Linked DNA regions of Homo sapiens: region 1 is linked to region 2. The links come from fine-mapping of genetic effects on gene expression. A gene starts in region 2. The other region holds a variant in brackets. All regions are shown on one strand. Distances are from middle to middle. Region 1 has its middle 34 kb from the start of APPL2. Region 2 holds the start of ALDH1L2 (aldehyde dehydrogenase 1 family member L2).

Region 1 (5,381 bases), 190 kb before region 2:
AGGGCGTGGTGGTATGCACTTATAGTACCAGCTGCTTGGGAGGCTGAGGCAGGAGGATCACTTGAGCCCAGGGAAGTCGAGGCTGCAGTGAGCTGAGATCACGCTGTTGACTTCCTAGAACTGAATCAAAAGAAAAACCCCACCTCTCCACACCCAAGTAACAAAAGGATCAGAGGCTACTCCCTTTGCACTGCATGGTAGATGATAAATGAAAAGTACCTCCAATTGGTCCCTTCCCACAACCAATCAGACTACCCAATTCTTCATGTGTAACATTGTAATTTCACTTCAGCCTCTGACTGGTCACCTCCCATGACCAATCAGTCTGGTCGTGGGCCACTCCTTCATTTACATAGGGTGTAAACAAGTAACCAATGGGAAACCTCTAGAGAGAATTTAAACCCCAGAAAATTCTGTAACCAGCCTCTTCAGCCGCTTGCTGGAGCAGGCTCCCACTCCATGGAATGTACTTTTGTTTTAGTAAATCTGTGCTTTCGTTGCTTCATTCTTTCATTGTGCTTTGTTTGTGTGTTTTGTCCAATTCTTCGTTCCAAACACCAAGAACCTGGACAACTCATAGTCAAGACCCTCCACCAGTAAAAGGGAACAACTGCACTCCCCCCAGGCAACAGATTGAGATCCTGTCTGATTAAAAAAAAAAAAAAAGTATTTTTCTACTCCAATGTGCTGTGTCTATTGGTCTATACTTACCTCCCTTTTTCTCTTAGACTTCCCATTGTTCCTGTTTTACTCCTCTGACCCACTACTAATGGCTAATTAAAATGTTTTTCCCAGTCTAGAAATGGATTTCCTGTCTAAGTCTACAGAAAGACATGCGTGCAGAAAAGCACAAGCGTTTTAGCCGTGAACCTCTTTTCAAATGAAATCTTACCTGGAATTCTAAGATACAAAATTGTAGTTTTTCAGGTTGAAGTTGGTGCAGAGGACCTGAGGAGCACAATCCAACTCCAGCTGTGGCAACTCTGTTTGTTATCTGACAAACTCTCAGATGTATAATATAGGATGGTGACTCTTGACAAAGCACAGAATAGAATTTTGACAAGCCTAATGATTTTTGAAAACTCTTTGTCAAATCTTGTCATATACTATGAGGATCCATCAAAATGACAATCTGCACACCCTGCCAACATGACTAATTCCTTAAAACAATGAGAAAACTCATTACTTTGAAAGAAAGAAGAAAATGTAGAAAGAGATGTTTAGCATCCTCTCTCTTTTAACAATTATGTGGCTTATAAAACAGACAATAGATATACAGCCAACATTGCGATTTAATTAGGGCAATAGTTTCAAAATGACTCTATCAGAAACTAGAGAAGGGAATATCTTTGGAGAGCCTGAGCCTGTGTTTCAAACCACTGCAGCAGCAGAGCAACTAAGAAAAGAATAATAAACGGTTGTGATATTTAAGGGTGGACACTTTTAAGCAGTAAATAAACAAAAATTATCGTTATCACCATCATCATCATCAAATCTGACACTTTGAGCACGAAGCCTGTGTTGGACACTGTGCTAAATATGCTGTGTGCACCCCCTCATTTCATCCTGACAGCCCTCTGAGGGTGATACTGATATTATCTCTGAGAGATTAAGTGGCTTGCTCAGAGTCACATAGCTGATAAGTGGCAAAGCTGGGGCCAGACCTCAAGTCCATCTGTCTCCCAAGTTCTTTAATACAACTGAAGCTTGTAAGTATTGGAATGTGAGGAGCCCAAAATCCCAAGCACAGATCCATAGCCAGGGGTTCCAGTACTCACTGGAATTTGGTCTCCCCCTCCCTACTTCACTCACCGAAAAAGGATGACTACAGATGTGAACTTTCACAAGTCTGGGATTCATGACACCTTATGTGGAACTGATTAGTTCAAAGACCTCAAGCAGAGAGTCTCTCCTTTATTTTCTCAGTAGGTCTGTGAGTTAAGGAGAGGAAGGTTTTATTATTGCTGACATCCATCCTAAAGAAGAAAAAACAGGCACAGAAGATGGTGAAACTTTTCAGGGTCATACAGGGAATCCTTATGACAGCAAGTCTTTCTGTAATAAACTATTGGCTTGCATGCTAGAAGGGACTTGTGGCCCCAGAAGCAAAGCCTAGACCCTGGCCTTCCTCCTTCTCACCTTCCTACTAAAGTCAGGGGCCTGAATGGGACCTTAAAAACAGGATCAAAATAGCTAATATTTATTAAGTTTTACTCTGTGCTTTATGTACATTACATCATTCATACCTCTCTGAAACCTTCTGCAGTAGGTACTATGTCCTCCAGGTAAGAAGAAAGGAAAATAGAGATTCAGCGTGGTTAGGAAGCTTGCTCAGGATGACACAGCTAGCTGGAAACAGAGCTGGAATTTGAATTTGGCCAGCCTTGCTTCTAATTTATACTCTTAACCTGGCACAAATCAGCCATGTCCAATGTACAAAAGGGTTATGTTTTAATTTGTTTGCTTAGAATTGGAACATGTTTTCTCTTATAAACAATTTTTAAATGGTAGGGCTCCCAGATCAGCCCACAGAGGCCTATTTATGCCTTGATGTTGTTCAAATTCACCTATTTGCAGAAAAAAATAGCAGGAACAAGATGTTTCAATTGATGATAATGAAAGTAAATATGAAAGCAAATACAATGAATAAGGAACATTTTAAAAATCTTAAATATCTATGTTGGGAAACTCCAAAATCACTAGAAGAGGTAAATGAAAATTTTGGGAAAGCTTCTGAAAATTTTTCCCAACCAATTTCAAGTACTTTAGAGGTGATTACTGCTGGCCATTTGTTATGAATTTCCTCTTTTCCGATCCAGATGCAACAGCATTAGTCATACACTCATCAAAAATATAAAGGCTGTTGTCTTTCAGTTTTGCACCCAAAAAGAGAGGTGCGTGATATAAAGAAAATGCATGAACTTTGAAACCCAGCAGACAGGGATTAAAAATCAAAATTCTGACAGATAGAGAAGCAATCAGAAAATCTCAGTCCCACTTTAGCAGGGCTTAAGTGAGTCTGTAAGTGGAAAGCT[A/G]TAAGTTTGGGTTGTCTGGTCATTCCTCTGAACAGAATAGGGTATAAGACCTTGGGTATCACACGTACAGACAGTTCGAAGAATTGGGGTGACTAAGTAAAAAGGCTAAAATTAAGAAAGATTAAAATGTATCATGAGAAACAAAACATTGAAATGAGTTAGGAGAAATTGCATGTACAAAAATCAACTCTGGTTCCAGGCTTGAAAGAAATCATTCTACGAACAAAGTAGGTATACTAATGAATGCCCAGAGGAGACCCACTGAACTGGTAGCTTTTCAAGATATCCCTCGCTGCAGTCAGGCCATAGGAGTGTAGGATAAGAAGAGACTGTAAAAAGTGAACCAGTACATTTCTTGGTTCTGGCTCAAACTGCCCTTACATCAAACCAGAAACCAAACCTTGGTCCTTTACTTAAAAATACCCAGATGATATTGCAAAACCTTTCTCAAGAACAACTGTTAGAAAGTGACATTCTTTTGAAAACTCAATAACCATCAACTTTTGTTAAATATTTTGCCTTCTTTTAGTTTATACTCTTGCCAATTGGACCTTTAGTAATGTTGACTGGAAGATTGATTGACTTTAAAATCCAAATCAAATTCTGAATCCTAACATTTTACATCCAACCAAATGCAGCTATTATCCATCCTTTTTTAATACCAAAAAGTTTTTTTAATACAAGATTTTTCTCAGTATGTCAATAATATCTCAGTAAAAAAAGAAAGACCTGTAAAATTTCAGTATCTTTTGTATGAAAGGTCACTTTTTTAAAAAAGGTGTTATTTTTCCATTTGAAAAATAAGCACACTGGTCAATCAACAGTTTATATCTGGTCCTTTTAGAGATTTTGCAAAACAATGAAGATTTTCTTTTTTTGACAACATTTTTCTTTCCATAAAACAATTATTGTTCAGGGGCAGATTTCATTGTTTTAGCAGTGGAGTAAGCCACAGCCCCAAACTGAGAGGAGAACGTGGAGGTCCTTGAGGCATCTTGAGATAAACAGTTCCCTTGGAAAGCTACAGCACCTTCTGTTTCCTCATCTCCACTGCTAGGAGAGGAGAGTCACTCTCCCACTAGTGAAAAAGCCAGACTTGGGTCTTGTTTATAGGACCAAATCATAGCCTAAGTAAGAGCAGGGAGAGCCAGGAAGCCATCTGACAGCTACAGAAGTTTTCTCTTGTATTACTTTCTTGAAAGTTTCTTAAAGCCCAGGGAATGCCAATCTAGATCCTGTTTACATTTTATATGCTCAATAACGGGGTGATGATCTGATATAAAAATCAGTCTTTTACAGTGTGGTCGGTAATATGTAGCCCTCTCGGGTCTAAGTGAGCCTTGCTAAAGCTACATTCAATGAGCGCAGTCTCTTATCTCACTACTCCAAGAAATATGTGTGTGTGTCTTTATGTGTACACACAAACACAGAAACACACACAGACTCACACGCATATATATAAATTGAAACTATGTGCCAGGGTTACTTGACACACATTTTTTAGTTGATGTTCACAGCCACCTCATAAGCTGGTGTTAATTCTTAAGCTTTAATACCGAGTCTTAAGAAAGGTTACAAATTTGCTGAAGATCTTATAGCTGGTAATGGTGGGGCTGGGATAGGAACCAGATGAACCTGGATGATTGCAGTGGTTAATGTAGCAGCTGTTACCAGTGTCCTGCTTACAGTCTTCACCGACGCTCCAGCTGATGACACAGCTCCCAGTGTGGGCCTCTAGGGCCTGGAGGCTCTTTTTGGAACCATGGAAAGCTATTCTAACTGACATATGCTTGTGCAGAGAAGCACCAGGAAATGACCACAGCCTGTCTGCACTCCAATAGCCCTCCAAATGTATCTCCCCTAGCCACTTGCTACTCAGGAAGAATTATTCTGAGATGTGTTTTTTACGCCATTTTTTAGAACATCCCTGTGAAATTACATTTCAATTGCCTACAGCAGTAGTTGGTTTAATAATGGAGCCTTGGCCAGGCACAGTGGCTCACACCTGTAATCCCAACACTTTGGGAGGCCGAGGCGGGTGGATCACCTGAGGTCAGGAGTTCAAGACCAGCCTGACCAACATGGTGAAACCCCATCTCTACTAAAAAATACAAAAATTAGACGGGCATGGTGGCAGGCGCCTGTAATCCCAGCTATTCTGGAGGCTGAGGCAGGAGAATCACTTGAACCTGGGAGGCAGAGGTTGCAGTGAGCCGAGATCGCGCCAATGCACTCCAGCCTGGGGTGACAGAGCAAGACTCTGTCTCAAAAATAATAATAAGAAGAATAAGAATAAGAATAAGAATAAAATAATGGAGGCTTTACTAGCTTCCTTTCCTGTGTCAC
Region 2 (5,377 bases):
GTCACCCAGCTGGAGTGCAGTGGCACAACCACAGCTCACTGAAACCTCAATCTGCCAGCTCAAGCGATCCTCCTTACTCAGCCTTCCGAGAAGCTGGGACTAGAGGCACGTGACCATGCCTGGCTAATTTTTGTATAATTTTTGTATTTTTTTGTAGAAACAGTGTTTCACCATGTTGCCCAGGCTGGTCTCGAACTCTGCCCACCTCATCTTCCCAAAGTGCTGGGAATACAAGCGTGAGCCACCACGTCCAGTCCAATGTTCACTTTAAATTTGCTCACGTCTTTGCCTTTTTTGTTGGGCTTCTTGCATTTCTAGGTTTCCATGTGGGTAAATTTTTTTTTCCTGCTGGAAGGATACTCTTTCATATTTCCTTTATTGTCTGTCTGCCGATGACAAATTCTCTCAAGTTTTTGTTTCTAAAAATGGCTTTGTCTTATCTCTATTTTTAAGGAGTATTTTTGCTGGGTATAGAAATAGATTGGCAGGGGTTGGTCTCTTTGTCAAACTCTAATTGCATCTGATCTAATTTCCAGTTATCAAGGAAACTATACTTTTGATTCTTCCAGGGAAAAAGTAAACACAATGAATATTTCATTATATTTGAGTGAACATAAATTCTACATTTCCTAAACTTGGGAATAGTAATATATAACTATGGAACCTCATTCAGGAAAAAAAAAAAAAAAAAAAAAAAACCCCTCCTTATGCACCCTTCTAGTATACACAGATCAGAATAAATAAAGGGAATATCAATATTTGGAAGTTTAAAAAAGCAAGAAGTCACAAAATGCAGTCAGGAAAGTGGGTTGAATTGGCAAGATGTAGGGCTCAAAGCAAAACCTTGGATGTTTGTTGCAATTCTCCAAGTTTTTTTTTTTTTGAAACAGAGTCTCCCTCTGTCGCCCAGGCTGGAGTGCAGGGGCGCGATCTCGGCTCACTGAAAGCTCTGCCTCCTGGGTTGACGCCATTCTCCTGCCTCAGCCTCCCAAGTAGCTGGGACTACAGGCGCCCGCCACACGCCCGGCTAATTTTTTGTATTTTTAGTAGAGACAGGGTTTCACCGTGTTAGCTAGGATGGTCTCGATCTCCTGACCTCGTGATCCGCCCACCTCGGCCTCCCAAAGTGCTGGGATTACAGGCGTGAGCCACCGCGCCCAACCGCAATTCTCCAAGTTTTAATGATGGTTCTTTTTTGTCTCCTTACTCTCTTAAACACATTCATCCGTTTCAACAAGTTTTTTTTTAACAAGTTATTTTTTATTTTATTATTATTTTTTTAAAGCTCTGGTTAGTGCTAGATACTGTAAATCCTGATTAATCAGACATGGACTTAGCTTGCAAGGAGCTTCCAACAGAGACGTTAATAGGTATACAAATACCAGTAGCAGATTGAGACAGCCATAACAGATGCATAGACAAAGATTATTTCCTGTTAAGAGGAGTGAACAATTATTTATGGGGAATAAGGAGACTAAGAGAGAAAAGAATCAGAAAAAAGCGCCTCCAGGAGGCAGCATGTAAGCGGTACCTTTCAGAAAAGAAACGGTCGTGCCAAGATAATTACAAGTGACAGATGACAAGCTTTTCTGGGAAACATTGTCCAAGAAGGAATAGGCAAGAACTGCAGTCAAGCAGAATTACATATGCAAAAGAGCAGTGAGAAATAAGAGAAAATGGCAAATTGCAGACGGCCCTGAATGCTGGGCTAAGAAGTCTGGCTTGAGATAAACGTCCAGCTAAAGCAGGTCTGAGCGTTTTTTCCAGAGAGGTGAGGGAGAAGGGCACGTATCTATTAGGTTGATGCAAAAGTAATTGCGGGTTTGCCATTATTTTCAGTGGCAAAAACCACAATTACTTTTGCACCAATTTATTTATTTATTTTTAAGACAGAGTCTCGCTCTGTTGTCCAGGCTGAAGTGCAGTGGCATGATCTCAGCTCCACTGCAACCTCCGCCTCCCCGGCTCAAGTGATCCTCGTGCTTCAGCCTCCCGAGTAGCTGGGACTGCAGGCATGCGACATCACGCCCGGCTAATTATTTTATTATTTTATTATTTTTTATTTTTAGTAGAGACGGGGTTTCACCATGGTGGCCAGGCTGGTCTCGAACTCCTGAGCTCAGGCCATCTTCCCTCCTCGGCCTCCCAAAGTGCTGGGATTACAGGCGGGAGCCACCGCGCCCGGCCTACCGTCCTACGAGGTAGGCATCAGGATCCCTCCACAGCGAAGGCGCCCCCACTACCTATCTGTCTACAGGCGTGCCTTTTACGGGCTGTGCTATGGACAGCACTTGGGATGTCAGATTGACCACTAATAAGGTAGATCCGTATACACTGCTGCGGGGCTGAGTAACTGGTAGAGGGTCCCACAGTTAGAAAGCACCTGGACCTTGGCTGGAATTGGCGGAAAGTCCAGGCAGCGGAGAGGCGCGGTCCCTGGGACTGGGTGCGCTCTTGGCACCAGGGTCAGGGCCCACAGGCTCCAGGAAGCCCACGCGCTCCGCCGGGTCGCACCAGGTTGGCTGTCCGAACGCAGCCAGCTGGCGGGGCGGGGCCTTCCAGCTGGGGGCGGGGTCTTGACAGCTAGGGGGCGGGGCCTTGCAGCTGGTAGGGTGGGGCGGGCCGCGGGCTGTGGGCTTTGGGAGGGGTGCGGACTAGCAGAGGCCGAGAGCGGCGAGCCGCGAGCCAGGCAGTCCGGGGCATCCAGACTGCAGGCCGCGCCCAGGCCGCGCCCAGGCTGCGCCGCCCGCCTGCCTCCCGCGCTGCCGCGTCGCCAGTGCTAGCGCTCCTCTCCAGCATGCTGCGGCGGGGCAGCCAGGCGCTCCGGCGCTTCTCCACTGGCCGGGTGAGTCCGGCCCGGGCGAGCGTCCCGGCTGTCACCCTGTCCTGGTTTCCAGACTCCGGGGCGGGAGGGCCGGGGCGGTGGGGCTGGGGATGAGCAGCGATGCTTAGACTTTGCTAAACACCAAGACAGCGTTTAAAACAAACAAACAAACAAACAAAAACAGAGAGACCTCAGAGGAGGGCTTGGGGAGGGTCCCGGATGGGAACTGGCACGCAGGCCATTGTCTTCTGCCGGGAGGGGGCTGAGGATGCAGTTTTTGGACGTGTCAAGTCTGGCTGGGATGGCAAGGTGGGAACAGTCACTTGGTAAGGAGGACAGAGTCTGCTTCCTTTCCTTTTTCACTTCAATCATGAGATCCCTGGTCAAGAGCTGGAGCCATATGGAACCGAGACTGTCTCCTGGAGGAGGGGAGTATCAAGTCAATAGGGTCCTCGTTGGCGGCCTGGGAGGTGTAAGCGCTCGAGACTGGCACGCAGGGCCGGTTCAGATAATGGCACTCAAAGCTGATGGCTGCAAGCTCAGTATTCCTGAGCTGAGCTGCAGATGGCAAAATTTCTAGAATTGCCAGGCGCTGCAGAGGCAGCCACGCTGGAACACTATTCTACTGTAGCACAAGAACCGAGCTCTGGCCCAGCCCCGCGCCTTGGAATTGCATCAGCTCCTCCAGAAATGGAACCGAGAGAGGACACGTTGCACTGCGGTGCTGCCTTCAGCACCCAGGGGGCCTCGGGACTGTTTAGGGAAGAGAGAGAGAGAAAAAAAAAAAATAAAAACTGTCTTATGTATCGTATCTTTTATAGGAAGTACATAAAAGAATTTGCTTATCGATTCTTTTTCTCGGCCATGCCAAAGCCATATGTACATATGTATATATTCAGATGTAAAAAACTTGGAGGCAGAGAGAAGTCTTGAGTAGCACCAAAAACTGGCCCAAACTTGCATCAAAGGAAAAGCTTTCTGTATCCCAGACAACCCCAAATAATAAGAATTCGTTTTACTCTTTGCAACCAGTTCTAGTTACTTTGAGGTATAGTCACCTTTTATAAAACGAGGGGTGGGGGTGGGGAAGACCTGCTCTGCTAGGACTTTGGCCTGCTCTCCTGGACCCCTCATTAGCTTCCCCCACCACGTGGCACATGGGATCCCAGATGGATAGCACAGAAAGCAACGGGCTGTGCCCAATGCCTGAGCCTGTTTTGTTGGCCTCCTCTGTCAACACCTTTCACTGACTTGTCTTTTTTGGTGACCAGAAGGAAGTCTTGCAGAATGAAAAGATTTTGATAGTGCGGTTTGCATAAGATTTCAGTAATAAAAGGTAAACATCTCAGGTGGCAAATGGCATAAACAAAACTATGGATGTGGGGAAGAACTGGCGTGATCAGGGTCTAACTGTACGCAGGGGTGCATATGGAAAAGCAGTGATACTCATGGCTGGGAAGAAGACAGTTTCCTCAGTGGTCGAAAGGAAGCTACTGAGTGGTGAATGAAAAATGTGGGATGTTTTATCCTGTAGAAAATGTTCTGGACTGTGTTTTATAAGAATTATTCAAAATCAAACAGATACATGGCTGGTGGAAATATAAAATGGTACAGCCACTTTGGAAAACTGTTTGGCAGTTTTATATGTAGTTAAACATAAACCTATCATATGACCCCGGAATCACACTCCTAGGTATTTACTCAAAAGAAATGAAACCTTATTTGCCCGCATAGAAACCTGTTTATTGATGTTTCTAGAGGTTTTATTCATAATTGCCAAAAACTGGAAATAAATTGTCCTCAGCTGGTGACAGGATAAACAAGCTGTGGTATATCCATCCATACAATGGAATTCTACTCAGTTGGGGGAAAAAGGAATGAACTACTGATGCATACAACATGGATGGAACTCAAATATGTATGCTAAGTGTAAGAATCAGACTCATAATGCTACATATTTTATGATTTCATTTATCTGACATTTTGGAAGAGTAAAACTATAGGGACAGAAAAAAGATCAGTGATGTCTGGAGCTGGAGATAGGAGGAAGGATTGATTATAAATAGGCATAAAGGAATTTGGGCGGTAATGGAACTGTTCTACATCTTGATTATGGTAGTGGTTACGTGACTGTGTGTTTGTTAAAACTCACAGCACAGTACACTGAAGAGGGTGCATTTTACCCATGCAAATTATCTTTTAATTTTTATTGTTTTGAGACAGAGTCTCACTTTGTCACTCAGGCTGGAACGCAGTGGCACAATCTTGACTCACTGCTACCTCTGCCTCCGGGGTTCAAGCAATTCTCCTGCCTCAGCCTTTTGAGTAGCTGGGATTACAGACATGCACCACCATGCCCAGCTAATTTTTGTATTTTTAGTAGAGACGAGGTTTTGCCATGTTGGCCAGGCTGGTCTTGAACTCCTGGCCTCAAGTGATCCTCCTGCCTCGGCCTCCTAAAGTGTTGGGATTACAGGCATGAGCCACTGTGCCCGGCCTAATTATCCCTTTATCTTTAAAATTTAAAAATCAAACAATGCTTTTAAGTTTAGT

What was found. PIP is the estimated chance that this variant, and not a neighbour inherited with it, causes the effect. A credible set is the group of variants that fine-mapping cannot tell apart.
Region 1: its variant is the best candidate, but not a certain one, in a credible set for the expression of ALDH1L2 in esophagus mucosa (GTEx, PIP 0.88).

Annotation. Positions count from the first base shown.
Region 1 is chr12:105,267,280-105,272,660 of GRCh38, reverse strand. No RefSeq gene overlaps it. Among named protein-coding and RNA genes, the nearest start is that of APPL2, 34 kb to the right of the region's middle. The variant A/G (reference allele first, on the strand shown) is at 3,036.
Region 2 is chr12:105,081,857-105,087,233 of GRCh38, reverse strand. It overlaps ALDH1L2 (aldehyde dehydrogenase 1 family member L2), which reads left to right and starts at 2,776. Exons shown (of 23, transcript NM_001034173.4): 1 at 2,776-2,845. The coding sequence starts at 2,798. RefSeq lists a silencer at 2,469-2,898 and enhancers at 3,399-3,638, 3,133-3,933.